Linked DNA regions of Homo sapiens. The protein of the gene in region 3 interacts with the protein of the main gene of each other region in a biochemical or structural test. Each region holds a gene or a part of one and is shown on either strand. Other genes may lie near its edges.

Region 1 (7,253 bases), on a different chromosome or scaffold from region 3:
CTTCCTTAAGGAGTCGATTTAAATAATTTAGAGTCTATCAGACATTTTGTTACCTTGTTAAGTTTAGATGCTAGGGGATCTGCTGCCTCTTTCCTCTGTGTGTTACCCATTGCTGCCAGTAAACTCAGCTGAAACTGATCTTCCTTGCAGTTCATTTCATTCTTAGCAGTTAGTTGCATGAAGGAAATGGGGTCATCAGGCTGTACTGTCACATTCCTCTTTTCAGATTCTTTCTGTGTTGAGAATATAACAAAGTCTCTCTTTAATATGAAAAGATAGTTTTTTAGAGGCTTTTGACAGAGACAGCCCTCACATATGAAAACTGAAAAATCAACAAAACAACAAGAAAACCCACAAAGCACTTTTCTTTTCTTTTTTTTCTTCCTGAGACAGGCTGTTACTCTGTTGCCCAGGCGGAGTGCAGTGGTATGATCACAGCTCACTGCAGCCTCGAACTCTTAGATTCAAACGATCCTTCATCCTCAGCCTTCCAAGTAGCTGGAATGACAGGCACATACCACCATGCCTGGCTAATTTTCTCATTTTTTTTGTTGAGACAGGGGCTTGCTATGTAGCCCACACTGGTCTCAAACACCTGGCCCCAAGGAGTCCTCCTGCCTCAGCCTCCCAAAGTGCTGGGATTACAGGCGTGAGCCACTGCACGAAGAGACACAAAACACTTTTGTTGCCTCATCATATATACCTTACCTTTTGGGATAATTTCTCTTCTTCTAGTTTAGCAGATAACATGTGAGAAAGGGACTGTCTGCATTCCTTATTGAAAATGTCATTCATTAAAGGTGAACATTCAGACAAGACCTTGAGGCACAGGGAAATTCGATCCACATCATCATCAGTAATTGGCTTCTTAGGAAGAGAGGATTTTCCCAAATGCAGGATAGTAGCCATGAGCAACATAGCCTCAGCAACAAAAGACTAAGAAAGTAAAGAAATCGGTTACTGATATTGTCTTGATTCTCAGATTGCAATCATGTCACTTCATTATAACTCACAATCTAAATTTTCACTTCACCTGAATAAGATTTCAAATTCTTTGGATTTTATGTCCATATCTGTTTTTGCATTCTTCTCCTTCCTTTCTACTCTTAACTGCCACTCTCTAAGACCTGCATTAATCCTCAATTAGAGACAGCAGAGGCTTTTTAACTGTTTTCCCTTGCTCCAGTCCTTCTCTGTAACCACTTCATATGCTGATGCTGTCCTTTTTAATCCCAACTACAGAAAAGTTAAAAGAATGATATACTTTACCAATTGTTAACATTTTGCCACATTTGCTTACCTATTCTGTATATGTACACTTATTTTTTTTGGCTGACATGTGAAAAAGTCTTCACCTCATAAATGCTTCAGCATTCATCTCCTAAGAGTCAGAACAGTTTCCTACAAACCACAATTTCATTTTCTCATCTGAAAAATTCAACAATTCCAAAATACAGCTTCTATACTCTGAATTCAAATAAATCTCCCTAAATTGTCTTAAAATGTTTTTGTTTTATTTTTTAAATCCAGGATCAGCTTCATGCATTTTATCCCTCTTAATCTAGACCAGTTCTCTGCCGTTTTGTTTTTAATCGCACTAACTTTTTTAAAGAACTGAGGCCAGTTGTTTTATAGAATATCCCACACTTTTGATTAGAATACCAGATAGGTGATGTTTTGTATTTCACCCTGTACTGCATCACAAGGTACCTAAAGTTAGGCTGTCCAATTATTGTGCTGCTAAGCGTGATCACCTGATGCTGCTATCTTAATCTTTATACTGCACCAATCATTTCATTCCCTATGTAAATACCTTTAATGAATGTCAGCCTTCATACTGAAGTCCGTATTACTTAGCTCGCTATTCAAAGTCTTCCACAAGTGATTGCAACTTACTTTTTTAGTCTCATGTAGCATTATCCTGACACATATGCTCTAAGCCCTTGCCAAATTGCCTTTGGCTGAGTACTGATCTGCACACATGCATGAAAAACTACTGGAGGCCTGGGAAAAACCAGCAGAAGAGTAAGTATATGTCCCCCAAGTTTGGATACTGTCTCCAAAAGGAGAGGAAAGAGAGGAGGGGACAGAAAAAAAAATCCGAGGAAATGACTGAAAATTTCCCAAACTGATGGAGATATAAACCTGCAAACCCAACAAGCTCAATGAACCACAAGTACAGCAAACATGAAGAAAACCACACTAAGGCATATCCTAATCAAATTACTGAAACCAAGTGAAAAGGAGAAAATCTAAAACCAGTGGAAGAAATACACACACACACACACACACACACACACACACACACACACACACACTCTCTCTCTCTCTACACCCAGGGAGATAAGAATGACAGTAGACTTCTCACCAAAAAGCCAGAAGACAATGGAGCTTTACTTTTACACTACTGGGAAAAAAAAACAGAAGACTTAGAATCCTATACCCACAAAGGTAACTTTCTAAAGTGTACAAAAAAATAGGCTTTTTCCAGACAAAAACTGGAACAATCTGTTGCCAACAAATCTGCACTATAAGAAAAGTTAAAGCAAATTCTTTAGGCAAAAGATGTATGATACCAGAAACTTAGTCCTACACAAAGAAATGAAGAGTGTTGGAAATGGCATAAATGAAGGAGTGCCAGTGAGATTATAAGCAACCAAACTTCCTTCTTGTACCAAACAGTGCAAACATTATTAACTCGGTATGTTACAAGAAACTGGCTCTTTTAAGCAGGTATCAGTAAACACTCCCAACTTCCAGAAGTGATGCAACCAGGAGAGGAAAGCAAATTCAACTCTGAGATAAAAAAATGTTGGAGACTTTTAAAAAACATACTTTAAAGATTATACTGTGACCAGACCTGAATAAATAAATGCCCACAAAAGAGTTACAAAATAAATTATTGCTCAAAAATCAAATCAATTAAGGGATAATATACCTTGTAAATTATCTGGCTCTCATTTATGGCTTTTCTTATAATGGAATTAAAACAAAAACAAAAAGAACCTGGCCAGGCACGGTGGCTCATGCCTGTAATCCCAGCACTTTGGGAGGCCGAGGTGGGCGGATCACCTGAGGTCAGCAGTTCGAGACCAGCCTGGTCAACATGGTGAAACCCCAGTCTCTACTAAAAATACAAAAAAAATTAGACAGGCGTGGTGGCAGGCGCCTGTAGCCCCAGCTACTCGGGAGGCTGAGCCAGGAGAATTGCTTAAACCCAGGAGGCGGAGGTTGCAGTGAGCTGAGATCATGCCATGGCACTCCGGCCTGGGCAAGAAGAGTGAGACTCCGTCTAAAAAAAAATTTTTTTTTAGATCAAGCTGTTAGTCTCCAAAAACGAAGGAAATATGAGTGATGTGAGTGAAAGTGTTTCAATTTAGAAACCTGCTGTATAGATAACCAACATAATACGAAAGCTGAAGGAATCAAAAGGAGTCCCATTGCTACAGGCCCAATTTGAATGTCAGAAATTGCTGTGGTAGGACATTGTAACCAACTCTGCGCTACTACCACAAATGTTCTATGGATTCTGTTTCTTAAATAATAAGAGTTGAAACTACTTGATCAGTGGCAGCATAATGGATGTTGTCTTAGCAGGCATGAAAACATTCATTTCTTTCTACATCTCCATCAGAGCTCTTGGGTGACCAGCTAAATTGTCAATGAACAGTAATATTTTAAAAGGAGTCTTTTATTTCTGAGCAGTAGGTCTCAATGGTGAGCTTAAAATACTTAGTAAGCCATCCCGTAAAGAGGATGTGCTGACATCCAGGCTTTGTTGTTCCACTGACAGAGCACAGACAGAGTTGATTAAGCACAATTCTTAAGAGCCCTAGGATTTTCAAAATGGGAAATGAGCAATGGCTTCAACTTAAGTTACTGGTTGTATTAGCCCTTACCAAAAGAGTCAGCCTATCCTTTGAAGCTTTGAAGCCAGGCACCGACTTCTCTCTAGCTACCAAAGTCCTAGATGGCATCTTCTTCCAATATAAGGTTGTTTAGTCTACACTGAAAATCTGTTGTTTAGTGTGGTCACCTTCACCAATGATCTTGGCTAGATCTTCCAGATAACTTGCCACAGCTTCTCCATTAGGACTTGCTACTTCATGTCAAACTTTTACATTATGAAGACGGGCTTATTTCCTTAAACCTCATGAATCAACCTCTGCTAGCTTCAAACTCTTCTTCTGAAGCTTCCTAACCTCTCTCAGCCTTCATGGAATTGAAGAGAGTTAAGGTCTTAGTCTGGATTAGGCTTTTGGCTTAAGGGAATCTTGTGGCTGGTTTTATCTTCTATCCAGACCACTCAAACTTTCTATCAGCAATAAAGCTATTTCGCTTTCTTTCTTCTTCTTTTTTTTCCTCGAGACGGAGTCTTGTTCTGTCTCCCAGGCTGGAGTGCAGTGGTGTGATGTCAGCTCACTGCAACCTCTGCCTCCCATGTTCAAACAATTCTCCTGCCTCAGCCTCCCAAGTAGCTGGGAGTACAGGCGCCTGCCACCACACCTGGCTAATTTTTGTATTTTTAGTAGAGACAGGGTTTCACCATGTTGGCCAGGCTGGTCTCGAACTCCTGACCTCGTGATCCGCCTGTCTCGGGCCTCCCAAAGTGCTGGTGTGAGTCACCACGCCTGCCAAATGTTTCACTTTCTTATCATTCATGTGTTTACTGGAGTAGCACTTTTAATTTCCTTTAAGAGCATTTCCTTTGCATGCATAACTTGGCTACCTACTTGGCAAAAGCAGCCTAGCTTTTGGCTTAGCTCAGCTTTTGACATGCATTCCTTACTAAGTTTAATTATTTCTCACTTTTGATTTAAAGTGAAAGACATGTGACTCTTCCCTTCACTTAGAAGCCACTGTAGGATTATTAACCGGCCTAATTTCAATATTGTGGTATCTCAGGGAATAGAATAGGGAGGCCCAAGGAGGAAAGAGACGGGGTAACAGCCGGAACACACACAACAATTATTGATTACGTTTACTATTTTATATGGGAATGGTTCCTGGCATCCCAAAACAACTATGATAGTAACATTAAAGATCACTGATAACAGATCACCATAACAGATGTAATAATAATGAAAAAGTTTGAAATATTGTGAGAATTACCAAAATGTAACACAGAGATATGAAGTGAGCATATGCTTATTTGGAAAAATGATGCTAACAGACTTGCTCAACTCAGGGTTCCCACAAACCTTCATTTGTTTAAAAAAAAAAAAAAAAGCAATATGTGCAAAGTACAATAAAATGAAGTATGCCTGTAAATGCTATGTAAATAATTGTTACACTGCATTGTTTTCAACTTTCTATTATTTTTTACTGTTTATCATTTTTTAAAAAAGATATTTTCAATCCATAGTTGGTTGAATCTGCAGGTGCAGAAGCTGTGAATATGGAGGACCAACTGCATACCATTGTAAATGGGTGTTTGGTTAGAACGGTCAGAAGCTACAAAGCAGGCATGAACTACAGATGAGAATAACTTAAGAGACATTCTGGGATAAAACAGACAATGACCGAATGGATGCAGATGCTGGAGAGAAGGACATTTCCTTCACTGGTCCTGAACTAATCCCAGCAAACTGAGGTGACTTCATAAATCCTTTCTCTTCCACTGGAATAATCACATGACATTGTTATTGTATTACTTTGTCAATTTTCATTTTTTTAAAGCCCAAACAGAAGAGGAAGATACTTTATCAATTTTAGAGTAATATATTACTGTGTCCACTTCTGCTATTAAATCATAAACTCTTTCATGACAGAAACTTAGCATTAATTTTTGAGTCCCTCACTGTTCAATGCATATAGTAGGCACTCAATGTTTAATTGTTGGTTAAATGTAAAATAAATGAACTTACATTTTGCTTTTTCTTCTCCTGAACCAAAGCTACATAGCGCAATGCAATCTTGGTCAGAGTTGTGGCAAGGGAGGCAGCAACAAAGAAATCTCCATCCAGAAGGAATCCTCTCAAGGGAGGTCTGCAAAGCAACCAAGGAAAATCAAACCCACCAACTTGCTAAGCAGCATGCAGCTTCTGTATAAATGAATGATATAGGCCTATTAAACACTCTTATTACCATCCTTCAGTGATAAGGATACCTTAGCTAACTAACTCCTTAGCTCCCAGAAGAAAGAAGGAAAAAGAAAAATAATACATGACTTTAAAACTTATCTTTGGCCAGGTGCAGTGGCTCACACCTGTAATCCCAGCACTTTGGGAGGCCAAGGCGGGCGGATTACCTGAGGTCAGGAGTTCGAGGACAGCCTGGCCAACATGGTGAAACCCCGTCTCTACTAAAAATACAAAAATTAGCTGGGCATGGTGGCACAAACCTGTAATCCCAGCTACTCAGGAGATTGAGGCAGGAGAACTGCTTGAGCCCAGGAGACAGGTTGCAGTGAGCCATGATCGCGCCACTGCACTCTAGCGTGGCCGACAGAGCAAGACTCTGTGTCAAAAAAAAAAAAAAAAAAAAAAAAAAGAAAACTTATCTTTGAATGACACAAAAGCCATCAGAATATGGAAAGATACAATATTTAATTAGGGGCATACGTAATTGCAGCTAATGAAGTACCTCCGAATTCCAGCTTACCTGTTTATTTACTGGGTAAGCCTCAAATTCTTCTTCCATAAAATGGAGATAATATATTCTATCTCAAAGGCTTATTGTCAAGACTATATGAGACAAACTACTTAGCACAATGCCTAGCACTTAGTGGGTATTCAGTAAAATTTTAGGCAAAGATTTCACCATCTTCACCATTAAAATTTACTTAATAGAAAAATGCACAATTTTATTCCATCATTTAGAAATTGAAAAATCTTCAAAATGTTTTCAGATGCTAATAAACAACAAAACTCAAATATCTTCAGTTACCCCCACTTAGCATTTTCTGAGTAAAAATAATTTGAGTTTAAACAGAACAGTTATTTCCATAAAAACACTGGAAGGGACAGAGAATTAAAACCATCAATACAATTCCTAGGGGGAAGAACTTAAACATCCTCCGCTTCTCAAGTACCTTAAATGGCAAAGATTTTCATTTTGGTTGCAAAAGCAAGAGGAAAGAAATCATTTGACTGTCTTACATACAAGAGTAATAATAAAAGTAGTACAGCTGGCAGGGTATATGTGCCATAAATTACCTGTCTTCCTCTTTCTTGGTGGGTCTAGAACTGCTAAGGGCACTCTGAGTTGCATAGGTACCCATTTCAGTAACCAATTTCTGAACTGGCCCTACA
Region 2 (7,253 bases), on a different chromosome or scaffold from region 3:
TTTTAGATTTCTCAATTTTAAAAAAGTTGAAAAAAGAATGTTCTGATGCCCCTTGCACATATATGCCAGGTAAGGCTTTTCCATGAAGAAAATTCATGGAGGACTTCAGTTACATCTCAAGACAAGACAGTGATTTCAGGAAGCTGTCTTCTCCCATTCTGTATCCCAGATAATTAACTTACCCAGTGGTGACAGCATATTTGATGTGGTTGCTTGTGGTATAGATAAATACCCCACTCTCATCCCAGGCCCCACTCTTGACACGAATGTTCTCATGAATGTTACATAAAGCATCCAGTTTGCGGTTACAGATCACAATGGCTGTAAGAGGCAAAGGGCATGAGTGTTCTGTTGGATAGGGTAAGTGCCGTAGACTGGCAGGGATCGGGGTGGAAGGGAATGGTCTCTAAATCAGGGTGGATATAATGAAGACTCACCGTGTTTGGCTAGTAGTGCTACATGTGACATGTCTGCTGACCAGATAACGTATTTCACTTTAGAAATCTTCACAGATGCCAGAGTCCTGAGATAGATAGAGATGTGCAAACATGAATGGATCTATTTCCCTTGTCTCAGGCTTTGATCTACATCAATTGCACCCTCTAATTAATGTAAACCCCAATTTCTTAATGTAATTCTAATTACATAAAATACTTAATGTAATTCCTACATAGTAGCTCAGTGACTTAAACATTTTGGCTCACATTGTGCACTTACCCCTTCCTCAACCCCCTCTCCCTCATTTCCTTGTATTATTAGGGAATCTGTGTATGTCTGTTTTCACCACTGGACTGCAAGCTCCCTTAAATGTAGGAACTATGTTATTAATCTCTGTCTCTCTCTCATTCTAAGCTCGGAGAACACGCTTTGTTCAGGTAAGTACTGTAAAAACAGATAAATAACCAAGAATCTCACTGTAATGCTAGTGTGGACGTGAAGAATGGAGAGTGATCACAGAAGGGAAAAGTTACTATAAAGAGTCTTGGAGCACAAGAAGTGGCCAAGCCACAAGACAAACTCACTTGGGGAAAAAAGGTTCCCACTAAAGATGTCCACTCTCCCCAACTACAGGGCTGTCTGCTTAGGGGCACCTGATATGTTACCGCTTCTGCTGTACGTCAAAGAGTGTGATAGAGTCCGCATCTCGAAGCAGGAGATTGCCTGTGCCAGCATAGAAGATCTCATCACAGTTGGGCACCTGTACCTTTTTGGTGATCTCATTCTTCAGATTCTTGATCAGAAGCTGCAATAAGTATTAAAGATGGGGTTAAGAGAAGAAATGTGTATAGATGATGATGACAACTGATGATGTTCCTCAGCAATTGTTCCTTAGCTTCAATTAACTAAGTATTTTTTGTCCTGTCCATGTCAATTACCACTGCAGACAGACCATGCCAACCAAGATCTTCTCTAAGGGCCTTAATACATTATTTTTTCTCCTCCAACTAAAACATCCTGAGAAGTCCCAACTAAAGTCTGAATTTCTCAATGAATGAGAGAGAGAAAACACTGTTTCTGGGGCTTAAATTTTGTTAAATATTTTCTTCAGAGTGCTTTATCTTGTGCTGGACCTATTACATTTCAAGTAACAATGGAGGCAGCAGAAGGAGGGAAATTTCCTCATCCAGCCCACTCACTTCAGATTTGATGCGTTTTGGGCTCCTGTAGTCAAGAGTGACTTTAGCTTGGTTCTTAAACCCAGAGCCACGGCGATCATCAACCCAATCAAATCAGTTTTAATGCCATTCCCCCAAGAGGGCTTAGTGTAGGGCTAGAGACAGAGGTACAGCCAATACATGAGAATCACGGCTGCCCGGGGGAGAACAGAAAAAACAATGGTCTTTATTTTGCAATACACAGGCCACTGCCACCACACTCCCCAAATTAGTTTCTGCTTTTAGTCTTAACTCACCGAATGCATCCGATCTAGGACAGCAAACCGATTTCGAGCGACCCAAACGGCTGTCAGGCCTGAGGATCGTTTCCCTTCAGGCGCTGAGAAGAACAAAACCAAAGGGTGGGAGCATGTGGTGAGTCACTGGCAGGTGACATAGTCGGGTGCCATGGAGCTGCCAGTCTTGCTGGATGCCATCTTGGCTTTGCCAGTTGAGCTGCTTCCTAACTAATTCAGCCATAACCTGGGGCTATTATTGAGTGACTTTTCCCCACCAGTCCCCTCCAAACACCAACCACCACCCCTGCCAAGGCTCTTTTCTCTAGGCCAAGTGGTTGCATTTCAGCCAACATCATGTACTGGCAGAAGGGCCGCCCATCTTGGGAGACAGCACACTCCATCAAGCTAACGAGCAGGGCCTCCCTGGCCAAGCTGCGGCAAAGCAAGCCTGTGTCATAGGACCCCCTCCACAGGATGCAGCTGCTCTCTGCTGCTTTTAACATGCAAATGCAGACTTCCTAGTAGGGCAGGGTGAGGCAGAGCACTCCCAACTAAATCTTGACAGGAGAGCTTGGTGCTGGGCGGTATTTAGAACCAAGTTGTTGCTCTGTAAATGTCAACTGACCATTCTTATCACCCTGAAGAGAGTTACAAAATGTTCCTCAGTTCAGTGGCTTATTAGAATTTTGAAATGGACACTCCATTCTCTGGGAAACTTGTAGAAGGATAAACAGAAGGGTGCATCAAAATACTCTTTTACCTATTAGACCAGCAGAAAACTGGAGAGAACATGCTGGCCAGTCTTGCCCCTGGCATCTGGAGTGGCAGGCAATTTATGAAACTAATTATTATCAAAACCAACACTCCCGTTTTCCAGGGGCCAGGAATCTGCATTATTCAAGCCCATCTCTGTTGCCCACCACTGGGCTGCTCCTTTATTATTATCTCCCTCAAAAAATGAAGTACAGAAAATAAAAGTGGTAATAAAACAAAACAAAATATTTTAAATTCTATTAATTGTAAACACAGATGGGGAAAAAAAAAAGCAAAGAGCTAGTTGGGAGGTACCAAACCATAAGATTTAGTCAGAAATGGCTTAACTGACTAATTTATAAGGGAGACTTTGACTTATGGATACCAAATACAAATATCTTTTCTTTCTCTCACTATGAACACATTTAAAAGAGAGGAGATCGATTAGCAACAATAATAACCCAGGGGCACCCACAAAAGAAACAGAGCTAGCAAATTATTTCTTAGGAATCTGTTGATGGGGTCTAAAATATCATTAAAATATGCCAGTAAGAGTGGGGATCTGCAGAATAAATCTCTGACCTGGTACTAGCCATAAACCCGCTGGAAGAAGTGCACCCAAAAGACCATAGGCAATAGTCAAATCCATTCTGAGAATGTTTTGTCAGCAAGTTCTAATCACAAGGACATCAACAAGGGATAGTGGTAATGGAAGAGGTAGGCAGGAGTCTCAGCTGGATCCTGGGATCCCAGGTGGGGTGTGGGGCTGTTAGCAGCCTCATCTTTTTGACATGCAAAAGGAAGCAAATCGGATCTGGATGTGGATAGGACAGTATAAATCCCTAGTCCCAGGATGAGGCATTATAAGATTGGAACCACATTTTTAAATAAATGAAACTACCAGGGTGAAAGTCATATCAACTGACAATAAACTAGGATAACATGCTGTGCTGAAAGAGAGAATGGAGAGTTTCTAATAACCAAATTATAAAATATATATATCTAGCTGGGGTAATAAAATGGAGGAGGAACATGAATATTTCACACCATGGTCGCCTCTGATGCAATTGTCAGCAGCACCTGCCAACAGACATGAGTGATGTGGCCATGGCTTGGGGATGGAATGTGAAAAACTTGAAGAGGAGTTATGATGCGGGTGAGGAGAGCTGGAAGCAGAGTGGGGTAGACAAAAAGAACACTTACCATCAGGATTCTGGGAGTCAGCATCTTTAGGGATGGTGTACAGGTCATAGGTACTATTCTCTAGATTGCTAGCTCTCTGTAGAAGAAAAGGGGAAATTAAAATGTTAGTGAGAAGCACCCAAGATACCAGTTTTCCAATTTACTCTGACAGAGAAAACAGTTCCATTGCACAGACACCAATCTGAAACCATACTTTTCTTACCCTTCACCCAGAGGGCATTTGACTGTTTCTACATCTATGAGTTATAGGGCTCTTTGCCAAACACATCAGCACTGATGTCACTTTATTTTCTTTATCCTCCAAAGATGCAGATATTATCTGAATGAAAGTAAGAAATGCTCTCTACTCCACAAATTAACAGACTAGGACCCTGATATTCTGGTACCCCACCCTGAGGACTCATCAACTGAGTACTCAACCTCTGGAAAGGAAAAAAAAAAGACATCAAAGAAAAGACACTATAGGAATGCAAATGTTTATTGGAAAAAGAAGAAAAGAAAAAACACTCAAGAAAACTCAGAGTATGGGACTACTAGATATTAAAGAAGAACAGATTAGACAATATAGTTATATGAGGAAAGACATTTAACTTCATTCCTTTTAACTTGGCCACGAGGGCACTAAAATTAGAATGTCATTTCTTTTTTTTTTTTTTTTGCAAATTCTGTTGCAAGAAACAGAGAGGAGTCATTGATGACTCTGAAGCCAACCCCACTGATATGAACTTCCTCTCAAAATAATAGTTCTTCTATTTTCACCCAAAGGAAGGGATCAAGGTAAACATTTTCTTTCCATAGGAAATATATATATATAGTCTAAACATTCTCTCAAATTATTTCTAGTGATCTGGGTCATTCATTCTGATGCTCCATTAAGTTCAGCTTTAGGAAAGATAGGCAGTTCACAAATGCTCAATATGTTTACGACAACTGAAACCTACCTGATTTGAGTCTCTGAGTGATCACTGTGTCAGCTCTCACAAAATGACCATTAAATAGTTTCTAAGAAGCCATTAAAGATTCCCTAAGGGCATAAGAAAGAGACCTATGGAAAATGAGGAGAACCTAGGAGGGCTCCACAGGTTACTTACTGTACAAAGCAGGACTGCATTTTCTGCTGGATTGTATGACATATTGAATACTGGAAACTTGGAACCACTAGAGATATATATAGAAAAAGGAGAAAACAGGGAAGAGGCATAAGAATAGAAGGAAGAAAGGAATCACCCCCACACCTCCTACTTATCCAATCTTTACACTATATACTCATCACTTTTATAATCAGGAATAAAATGAATAAATATTGTATTCTCTTCCTTTAAGGCTTGGCAACTTCCCTAGCTCAGCTTTGAACAAACAGTTTTAAAAAGTAAGCCATAGTAGAAGTCAAATTATTCAACAGAAGGTAGGTAGGGTTAACACTCACTGTAGTGAGTGGGACTGGTTCTGCTTGGATACAAATTCCTACACGTAATTGCAGTGGACACCACAGAGTAACATAATGTGATTTGTCTCTGGCTGGTTTCTCCTGTCCCTTGGAGTATTCACATAAACCCATTTTTTTATTGTAATGATGCTAAAGGGTGGTTATCAAAACCTCATTCCAAATTTTGCCACCATGAATGTTTCAGCATGCTGATGCAGCTGGCTTTTCAAAAGGACAGGTCCTTTTGCCAGGCATCCCAGAGGTTATTGTATCTTCAGAATTAAGAGTTTCCAGGGACATATATTCTGGTTCAGAGTTGTGCACTTTTTGCTGGAAGGCAAGGGAGAGTTAAAGAAAAGAAATGCCAAACAAAGGCGAAAAGTTCTGTTACCAGTTTGGGCCATTCTCTATCAAGAAACTTCCTCTGGCTTGCAAGAGACCCAGCAAATTGTGGCAGAATGATTTTCCATCCACAAGGTCACTAGCATTCTCAAGAAGGGAACTATCATTCTACTCATGACCACTTCCTTGCCTCCCTCACTCATTGGGTTTAAACTGAGCGGGCTCATCTAATGGGGATTCCATCTGTGACAGAATACGAGATCCAAAATGTCATTTAAAAGAAGAGTCTTGGTTGGGTGCGGTGGCTCACGCCTGCAATCCCAGAACTTTGGGAGGCCGAGGTGGGCGGATCACAAGGTCAGGAGTTCGAGGCCAGCCTGACCAACACAGCGAAACCCCGTCTCTACTCAAAATACAAAATTAGCCAGGTGTGGTGGTGCACACCTGTAATCCCAGCTACTTGGGAGACTGAGGCAGGAGAATTGCTTGAACCCAGGAGGTGGAGGTTGCAGTGAGCTGAGGTTGCATCACTGCGCTCCAGCCTGGGTGACAGAGTGAGACTCCATCTCAAAAAAAAAAAATTTAAAAATAAATAAATAGGCTGGGCGCGGTGGCTCACGCCTGTAATCCCAGCACTTTGGGAGGCCAAGCCAGGCAGATCATGAGGTCAGGAGATTGAGACCATCCTGGCTAACATGGTGAAACCGTCTCTACTAAAAAATACAAAAAATTAGCCAGGCGTGGTGGCGGGCGCCTGTAGTCCCAGTACTTGGGAGGCTGAGGCAGGAGAATGGTGTGAACCCGGGAGGCGGAGCTTGCAGTGAGCCGAGATCGCGCCACTGCACTCCAGCCTGGGCGACAAAGCGAGACTCCGTCTCAAAAAAAAATTAAATAAATAAAATAAATAAATGAAAGAAAGAAAAGAAGAGTCTTGTTTGTGGGAGTTGTATCAGGGTGACAGATGAGAGGGTTTGGAGGAAAGAAACAAGTCCGATTTACCTCCGCAACTGCATCACAGCTACATCTTTGGAGCTGTTGAAATCCAGCTGTCGTAAGAATCGGTCCTTGACATAGTGTAGCATATTGCCATGAACAGCATAGGCTGGCCGTTCCCGTTCCAGCTTAAACACAATCATACCACCATCATGGCCTGGGGGACAGGGAGAGGAGGAGAAAAAATTAAGCTGTAGGCAAGAAAAAAACCTGGAAATTGGAGATACGTAAGGATGAAGATTATATCTGTAAGACAAGACACCTGAATGCATCCCTTATTTGCCTAAATTCTCACAATTCTTGGAATCTTTATTTAAATAATTCTCTGTGAATCCTTTCCTAATACTATTCACACTGCCACACTTAGTGTCACTATCCACACTGCCCTTTTCTGTGTTCCCCTAATGCTTTGTACAAACCTCCATTACAGTACTTATCATCCTGCACTGTAATCATTTAGGTCTATCACCCACATTGTAACATGAATTCCCTGAAGGCAGAAATTATAATTTCCATCCTTCCCCAGTCTCTAGCATATAAAAAGAGTATAAGAAGTATTTACTGAAAAAATGGATGTTAAAAACCCTTTGTGATTCTGTTTTTTAAAATGTTTTGCTCTTTCCCTACTAGCACCATCATCCC
Region 3 (7,925 bases):
CTTTGGGCCAGGCATGGTGGCTCATGCCAGTAATTCCAGCACTTTGGGAGGCCAGGGTGCATGGATCACTTAAGACGAGGAGTTCAAGTTTCAGCAACATGGCGAAACTGAAAAACAGAAAAAATCAGCCAGACATGGTGATGTGCACCTGTAGTCCCAGATGCTTTGGGGGCTGAGGTGAGAGGATCACTTGAGCCTGGGAGGCTGAGGCTGCAGTGAGCTGAGCTCACACCACTGCACTCCAGCCTGGGTGACAAGTGAGACCCTGTCTCACAAAAATAATAAAAAAAAAAAAAAACTCTCTTTCAAACCTTACAATAATCCTGTGAAGTATCAACATTCCCATTTTACAGACTGAAACACCAATTCAGAAGGATTAAGTACTATGCCCAGGACACAAAACAAGTAGTCAAGTTAAGATATGAATCCATATCCATTCTGACTAACAAAACCTGAGATCTCTTGGCTCTACCATGGATGTGACCAGTATGTAAAGAGAACAGAGAGGAAGAAGGCATTCTGGGTAGAAGGATCAAAATAACACCCAAGTTTGAAGCTAGAAGGGGATGAGCCAAGTTTTGCAGAAGTGGGGAAAAGGCTCTGGGCAGTTACGGGAAATAAATTAGGCGACAGATTATAAAAAGGCTAGAATATACAGATGGCTAAGAAATGCAAGTTTGATCCTATAGGTCAGTAAGATGGAACTGGAAATTGTAAGCAGGAAAGTAGAGGATAAAACCAGAGCATTAGAAAGGTGAAATTCAACAAGGCAGAGATGGGCTGGAGAAAAAGCATGGCATAATGCAGACAGAATTATTATTTAAAATCCGAAGTAGGACAGGTGTGGTGGTGTGCATCTGTAGTCCTAGCTCCTCGAGAGGCTGAGGTGGGAGGCTCGCTTGAGACTAGGAGTTAGAGGCTGCAGTGAGCTATGATCAAACCACTGTACTCCAGCCTGGGCAACAGAATGAGACCCCATCTCTTTAAAGACAAAACGAAACAAAAGAAAAAAAAAACAAGCATTTCAACATTTAAATAAATCCTTTTAGCAATCCTTTTGTAATAAAATAATCGAACTATCTCTTTTGCATGGATATTTCTTAAAACACATCTCCAGACACATTTTAAAAAATGGCTACTATCTCCTACCAATTCTTACACAGAAACCAATTTCACTTCTAAATGCATCCAAAAAAGAATACTCCTTAGGGCAGGAGCCACATTTGAAAACCTTCAACAGCAGCCTCAGAGCAGGAAGGGCCAAAAGGAAGGAATAAAAATGGAAACTCTAACTCATAAACCCCTTGGTAAAGAAAAAGGTGCAAAAAAGTTGTACCTTCACATTTACAGAAACACTCTAAACTTTTTTTTCAGGGGGAAAAAAAGCTAGGACTGACAAATGAGAGAATGACTTTCACATAACCCCAGTTTGACTTTATCACCCAAATAATTTAAGAGTTTCCACTTCTCACAAAAATCAATACAAAAACATCATTCTTACTACTTCAGGGACAAATTTCCTTTCTCTTTTATGTATGCGAGGATTTGGGTTTGTTTTAAGGTCTGAACTGGTTAAATTTAGTGTTCTGGCAGCTGAAAAACAATCATCATAATTCTCAAGTTCTCCATCCTATTCAATCTTTGCCACGCTAAGCTGCATGAAGCCATGGCTCCATATGGCTTAAACACATTTGAGACCTGGTGTAGGATCACATTAAACCCTTCAGTGCCTATCAGATACACAATAACCTAATTAGCTAGCAGAGCACATGTGACAGTGGCCTGGCCAGAAACGCAGTGGAAGACACTTCCTTCAACTCTTTCACCAAAGACGAGGTGAGCACTTTGCAAAGGGGAACTGGGAGAAAATAGGGAAAGGTGGAGAGGAAAATGTGGAGGGAAGTGTGCAGCTAGGGTTTTCAAAGAACATTACAGTAAACAGAAATGGCACCCACAGGGGGTGCACTGTAGAAAAAGCAATCATCTTTTTTGCAACACATACAATGTGGAATAGATGACCTCTCTGAATTTTGCACCTCTAACTTTCCACTGAACCTTTCAGAAAGTTACTAGTGAGGTTGAGGTCTGAGGAGCTTAAGTGCCCAAACCACATTTTGGTGTCATTTCCCTGCAAAAGAAATGCGGTATCTATGCCTAACTGCCAAGGTATTTTAGCTCATATACAGGGATAGATAAGCTTCTAAAAAATTACATTTGTTTCTCCTACCAGATATTCCCAGGCTGTGGCCACCAGATTTTCAAACAGCCTAGGGGTAAAGCATTAAACACGAAGTGAGTACAACAAAATTATTCACAGACAAGAAAAGTGTGGATGCTAATGGGTAACACTAAGGGAAATAAACACATGTTGTTTTTAATCCAAGACAAACCAAAACCCTTAAAAACACCTATTTTATAACTCTTAACAACCACAGCCTCTGTATCAAAGACTCAAGAACTTGGATTTACCGAAAAGTCAATTTGCAGTACCAAAATTACCGAGATTAGCCTCTGGCTGTCGACACTGACTTAAGAACCTGCTTTAGGCTGGAGCTGTTTAAAATTTAAACCAAAGTAAACTCCTTCAGGACCTTAAGACTACTGACTGTACTTTAAATTTTTTCTGCACACTGAAGAGGGGGCAGGCAGGCTTCGGTACCCAGATAGGCTGTAAGCAAAACAAAGATTTGTTGATTTGTGCGTAGACTCTAAATTGCTGCTGTAGGTCCGTTAAGTAAGAGAAAACTCTTTTTCTCTGTTAAGTCATACAGATAAATTTAGTCGGTAGCTCTGCATAGAAAGTGGGGACAAGCGTGCCCTGAAGGGCCGCATCATAACGCCGACCCCGGCTCGGTGGGGGCCAGTCGGCAGCTTCTCTCTTCAGCCGTGGGCGCTGGGGCCGAGCACGGTGGAGAAAGGCCGGCGAGCCGCTGGTTCCCGGCCTATGGCTACTCGGGCGAGGCCTAGGAGAGGCCGCGCCGGCTGAGGAAAACCGGTAAATGCGAGGAGCTCCCACACCCTATCTGCAATCCGGGACTCAGAAGCCCTCCCCGAGGCCAGGGCCCGCACCTGCCGCCCCGCCCGCCGCGCCTCAGGCCTCTGGCCCGTGGGACTCACAGCTTCAGCTGCTCGTAGGCCGCCGTCGCCATCCTGCACAACCACCTCCTTCCTTCTCTCTCCGCCCGCCCCGCCCCGCGCCGCCACCTCGGCTACAACTCTACCGGTCACCCTGGCACAGCGGCCGCAGCTCCCAGCCTCTTCCCACCCCTTTCCCCGCCCCGCAGGAGAGCCGGCCTGAACGGGAGGCGGTGGAGGACAAATTAGTGCGCAAGCAAGAGCACGCGAGAGATGCCGCCGACGCGGCGGGTTGGAGTGCGACGAAGAGCGCCGTGACGAAGCCGCTGCGGATTGGTGGGGCGCGTTTTGGGGAAAGGCAGAGCAGCGGGAGCGCGGCGCAAGGGCAAAATGGATCGTTGGTACCCGGAAGCCCGTTCAAACTGTATAAGGGTGATCAGCTATCACGGAGAAGGCTTTAGCAAGTCGGGGCCAGTGGCGCAATGGATAACGCGTCTGACTACGGATCAGAAGATTCTAGGTTCGACTCCTGGCTGGCTCGCGATGTCTGTTTTGCCACACTTGACCCATGTACTACTGGGTCTTGTAAAGATGTATATTCACAATGTGAAAGTATTACAAGACCTTGGAAAGGTGTATGGTTAGAATGTGAAAGTTAAATATCTGAAATTTTGATGCCGCTTTGCTCACAATGTCATCCTTTATCCTTTAAACCTGGAGTTGTCTGAGGTGGTTTGCAAACTGCAAAGCGCCCTGTTCCCAATGATGCACCTGAGAAGTCTGTAAATGGGGTAAATTTAGGCAAACACACCTGGAAAAGTGGCATTTTGGAGTGGGGAATGCTGTGGCCGGAGGTTAGCAACCGGATGATGCAAAAGCGTATTTAAGGCAGCAGTTCTGGCCTTTCCCCGCCACGGAGCAGAAGCCCCCATAGTGATGTGAGAAGCGGCGCTGTCCCAGTTTACTAGGATGGGATGGGCTTTGGATCTAACCAGCAGCGAAGAAAACCTGCGGTGCGGCTGCGCTCGGTAGTAGGGGTCCACAAAGCGTCAGAATCTGCAGCAGCCCCGGCCTTTGCGAGCTCCAGCTCCGAAGTCAACCCGGCCCCCAAATTCCACTGGGAAACCTTAAGACACCGGTGTTTTTACCGTAAGAAGACCTCAGGTAATCTAGTATATTACCCCTCATTGTATGGATGCGCGACTTGGACACCCGAGAAGGCGCGAAACGTCTGCGGCCTAAAGGGACTCGAACCGGGGGATTATATGAGTCATCGGACACTGTCCGTTAACCAATCACTCAATCGATCAATTAATTTCCGCAACATAACGTTTTCCCCTGATAAAATTATAGATTTTTAAAATATATAAAATTATTGGGAATATTAACGCGATTCCCACCCTAAATCATTACTATTATTTTTTTTTTCCTTAAAGCCTTTTTTTCTTCTATATTTTTTAACATGGGCATACTTGCACATGTGTTTTTCCAAATTGGGGTTGTACGGAAATGGGTTCCTCATTTTGTCTCCTTACCTTTTTGTCTGAGATTTAAGGTCATTAAATATTCTTTGAAGATATTTCATCAGAGAGCTAGATATTTTAAGCAGAATCCTTATGCTGGGAATTTGGGTGGTTGTCAGTTTAACACCTAGAAAAAATGATGCTGCTTAGGAGTTCGAGACCAGCCTGGGCAACATAGCAAGACCTCATCTCTATTTACTAAATAAATAAATAAATTTTAATTAGCCAGGTGTGGTGGTGTGCACCTATAGTCCTAGCTACTCAGGAGGCTGAGGTGGGAGGATCACCTCAGCCCAGGAGGTTGAGGCTGCAGTGAGCTGTTACCATGCCACTGCACTCCAGCCTGAGCAACAGAATGAGACCCTGTGTTGAATTATTATTATTTTGAGACGGAGTCTCGCTCTGTCACCCAGGCTGGAGTGCAGTGGCGTGATCTCGGCTTACTGCAGTCTCTGCCTCCCGGGTTCAAGCAATTCTCCTGCTTCAGCCTCCCAAGTAACTGGGACTACAGGTGTGTGCCACCACGCCCGACTAATTTTTTGTATTTTTTAGTAGAGACGGGGTTTCACCGTGTTAGCAAGGATGGTCTTGATCTACTGATCTCGTGATCCGCCCACCTCAGCCTCCCAAAGTGCTGGGGTTAGATGTGAGCCACTGTGCCCGGCCGAATTATTTGTCTTACAAATTTCTAGAGGTGGAACGACCAGGTGGACATCTGTAAGGTCCATTTTATGGACATTTTTAAGACTTTTGTTACTTTCTGACTGCCCTCCAAAAAATTAAACCAAAACACACTTCCATCAACAGCACCTGTTTCTCTGTTTTCGTGCATGCTAACCAACACTGGCTATTATAAATTTAACCGTGATTTGCAATTTTCATAATTGGAATATGGAACTTCCTTTTACATGTACTTTATATATTTTCTCTTGATGTATTGAATTTTTTCTTACAAATTTGATTTTTTAATATATTAAGGGTATTAACTCTTAAATACGTTGCAATCTTTTTTCCAGCTTATGATTTACCTTTTCAAAATTTTTTTAACGGCTGGGCACGGTGGCTCATGCCTGTAATCCCAGTGCTTTGGGAGGCCAAGGCAGGTGGATCTCTTGAGGTCAGGAGTTCGAGACCCGCCTGGCCAACATGGTGAAACCCTCTCTCTATTTAAAAATACAAAAATTAGCAAGGCATGGTGGTGTGTGCCTGTAGTCCCAGCCACTCAGGAGGCTGAGGCAGGAGAATTGCTTGAACCTGGGAGGTGGAGGCTGCAGTTGGCTGAGATCACGTCACTGCACTCCAGCCTGGGTGACACAGTGAAACTCTGTCTCAAAAAAAAAAAAAAAAAAAAAATATATATATATATATATATATATATATTTGAACTTGTAGTAATTTTCACTTTATATATTCACACTTACTAATATTTGGTTTCTTCTATTATATGATTTTTTAATGTTTTGTTCTTATGTTGTTTTTACCATTTACTTTAATCCATTTGTCATTTATTTTGTTGCCATTTATCATGATGTAAAGATCAATTAATCTTAAAACCTGACACACTTTATTGAGCAATTACTTCATGCCAGAAACTGCTCTAATTCCCTTACTTGGATGAATTCAATCATTCCTTACAACAATTGTTGTACCTGAGCGAGTTAGAAAAACGCCACACTTTAAGACGAATTAAGAGTCCTTTATTAGCCAGCGACCGAGAGACGGCTAACACTCAAAATTTTCTCAGCCCTGAGGAAAGGGCTAGATTTTCTTTTATACTTTGGTTTAGAAAGGGGAGGGGGGGGTCTAGTTAAAACAATTTTACAGAAATAAAGTAGGCAAAAAGTTAAAAGGATAAATGGTTACAGGAAAGTAAACAGTTCCAGGTGCAGGGGCTTTAAGACTATTACAAGGTGATAGACCCGGGGCTTTGGGCGTTATCAATCAGACGAATTCCTGGGAATTGCGGATATAGCTTGCCACAGTATCTTATCAGTTAATTGCATTCTTGGATGTGCTGGGAGTCAGCTTGCACAAGTTAAGTCCTTGAGGAAGGGGTGCCAGTGAAAGAGCCAAGATGGAGTCTGTCTGGCTGTCTTAGCTAAGGGAGAGTCAATTCAGGTGGAAACAAGGCTAGGTGATTAAAGGAAGAGGGAGAGTCTAAAAACAGGGTTAGTAAAAACAAGGTTGGGCATTACACAATCCCATGAGGTAAATTCAGTTGTTATCCCCATTTTTACAGATGAGGGAACTAAATTGGCTTAAGGTCATGGAGCAATTGAGTTATGAAGCCTGAGATAGAATGTGAGTCTGGGCTCTTGACTCCAAGGCCGTCCTGCCCTGTGGACTCACTGTACCCCAGAAGACACCGCATGAGTAGGTTCAAGGACAATTCCCTGTCTGGGCATGGACGGCAGTCACATCTGCCACTTACCCCTCACCCCTACTAATTAGCAACAAGAAGACCCCATTTCTAGTCCTTATGATGCTTTTACCCACTATCTCTGGGCTCTTGGACATTTCCTCTCCTTTAATAAAATAGGGGTTTAAGTTGCAGCCTGTCTCATAGGCTTTAGGGGGAAAAGAAATGCTTCCATATGAGCAACTGCCACCCATTGTCATGTAGAAGGAACTAAGAGAGGCAAAGTTTGACGTTTCTTTACCAGTTGGGAACCATAAACCAAGGCCTTTGTGACATTCAGTGAGACTGAAAACCAGAAAATAATCTGGCAGAAACCCCATTCTTCTGGGGTTTTTAAAGGCCAAACAAGCCAAAATCAGATTCCAAGGAAACCAATGTTCAGGATAAGGAACCAGCCAATGATGGGTAATATAAATTCATATCTGTAGCCAAGTTTTTCCTATAGTAAAATTGTTATATAACTTTTTACAAAATCTGCCAGAGGCCTTCCAATGGAGACAGTCCAAGCTGCAGATGAAGCTTGTTGGCACATCCAAATAATCTCTACAACCTACTTTTAGGGCCAGCTCCCACTTACAGACCTTTTAATATAGTAGTTAAAAAAAATTTAGGCAGATAGGGTACAGGAGTCCTTGGTAAGGCTTTTCTTTTAATAAAAAGCAGCCCCCAAAACCATTTCTTTTCCAACAGAAAGCAGCCTGAAAAGTCAAGCTGCAAGCATAAATAAGCAAGCTAGAAGCTTGCACAGATAAATGCCGGCAGCTGCACCTGGAAGACAGGTGCATCCAATATGGAAGATTTCGCCTCCCTTCTGTTTGTTGCCATGTGTGCAGGTGTCAAGGCTCTGGCCAAGTAAAAAACCCTATCTGCATAATAAAAGATCAAGGTGGAATGGCCAGTTTCTTCGA

Evidence for each region.
Region 1: the proteins of SACM1L (region 3) and COPB1 form a complex in vitro, tested with the Homo sapiens proteins (one study listed by BioGRID).
Region 2: the proteins of SACM1L (region 3) and COPA form a complex in vitro, tested with the Homo sapiens proteins (one study listed by BioGRID).

Annotation. Positions count from the first base shown.
Region 1 is NC_000011.10:14,468,628-14,475,880, forward strand, and holds part of COPB1 (coatomer subunit beta), read right to left. Parts: coding exon 7,158-7,253; intron 5,989-7,157; coding exon 5,868-5,988; intron 937-5,867; coding exon 709-936; intron 234-708; coding exon 54-233; intron 1-53. UniProt on the Homo sapiens protein: The coatomer is a cytosolic protein complex that binds to dilysine motifs and reversibly associates with Golgi non-clathrin-coated vesicles, which further mediate biosynthetic protein transport from the ER, via the Golgi up to the trans Golgi network.
Region 2 is NC_000001.11:160,305,251-160,312,503, forward strand, and holds part of COPA (coatomer subunit alpha), read right to left. Parts: intron 6,769-7,253; coding exon 6,618-6,768; intron 5,009-6,617; coding exon 4,942-5,008; intron 3,927-4,941; coding exon 3,851-3,926; intron 1,996-3,850; coding exon 1,913-1,995; intron 1,244-1,912; coding exon 1,104-1,243; intron 524-1,103; coding exon 438-523; intron 349-437; coding exon of another isoform or gene 322-348; coding exon 183-321; intron 1-182. UniProt on the Homo sapiens protein: The coatomer is a cytosolic protein complex that binds to dilysine motifs and reversibly associates with Golgi non-clathrin-coated vesicles, which further mediate biosynthetic protein transport from the ER, via the Golgi up to the trans Golgi network.
Region 3 is NC_000003.12:45,684,690-45,692,614, reverse strand, and holds the start of SACM1L (phosphatidylinositol-3-phosphatase SAC1), read right to left. Parts: upstream 3,220-7,925; 5' UTR 3,150-3,219; coding exon 3,118-3,149; intron 2,268-3,117; exon of another isoform or gene 2,228-2,267; intron 1-2,227.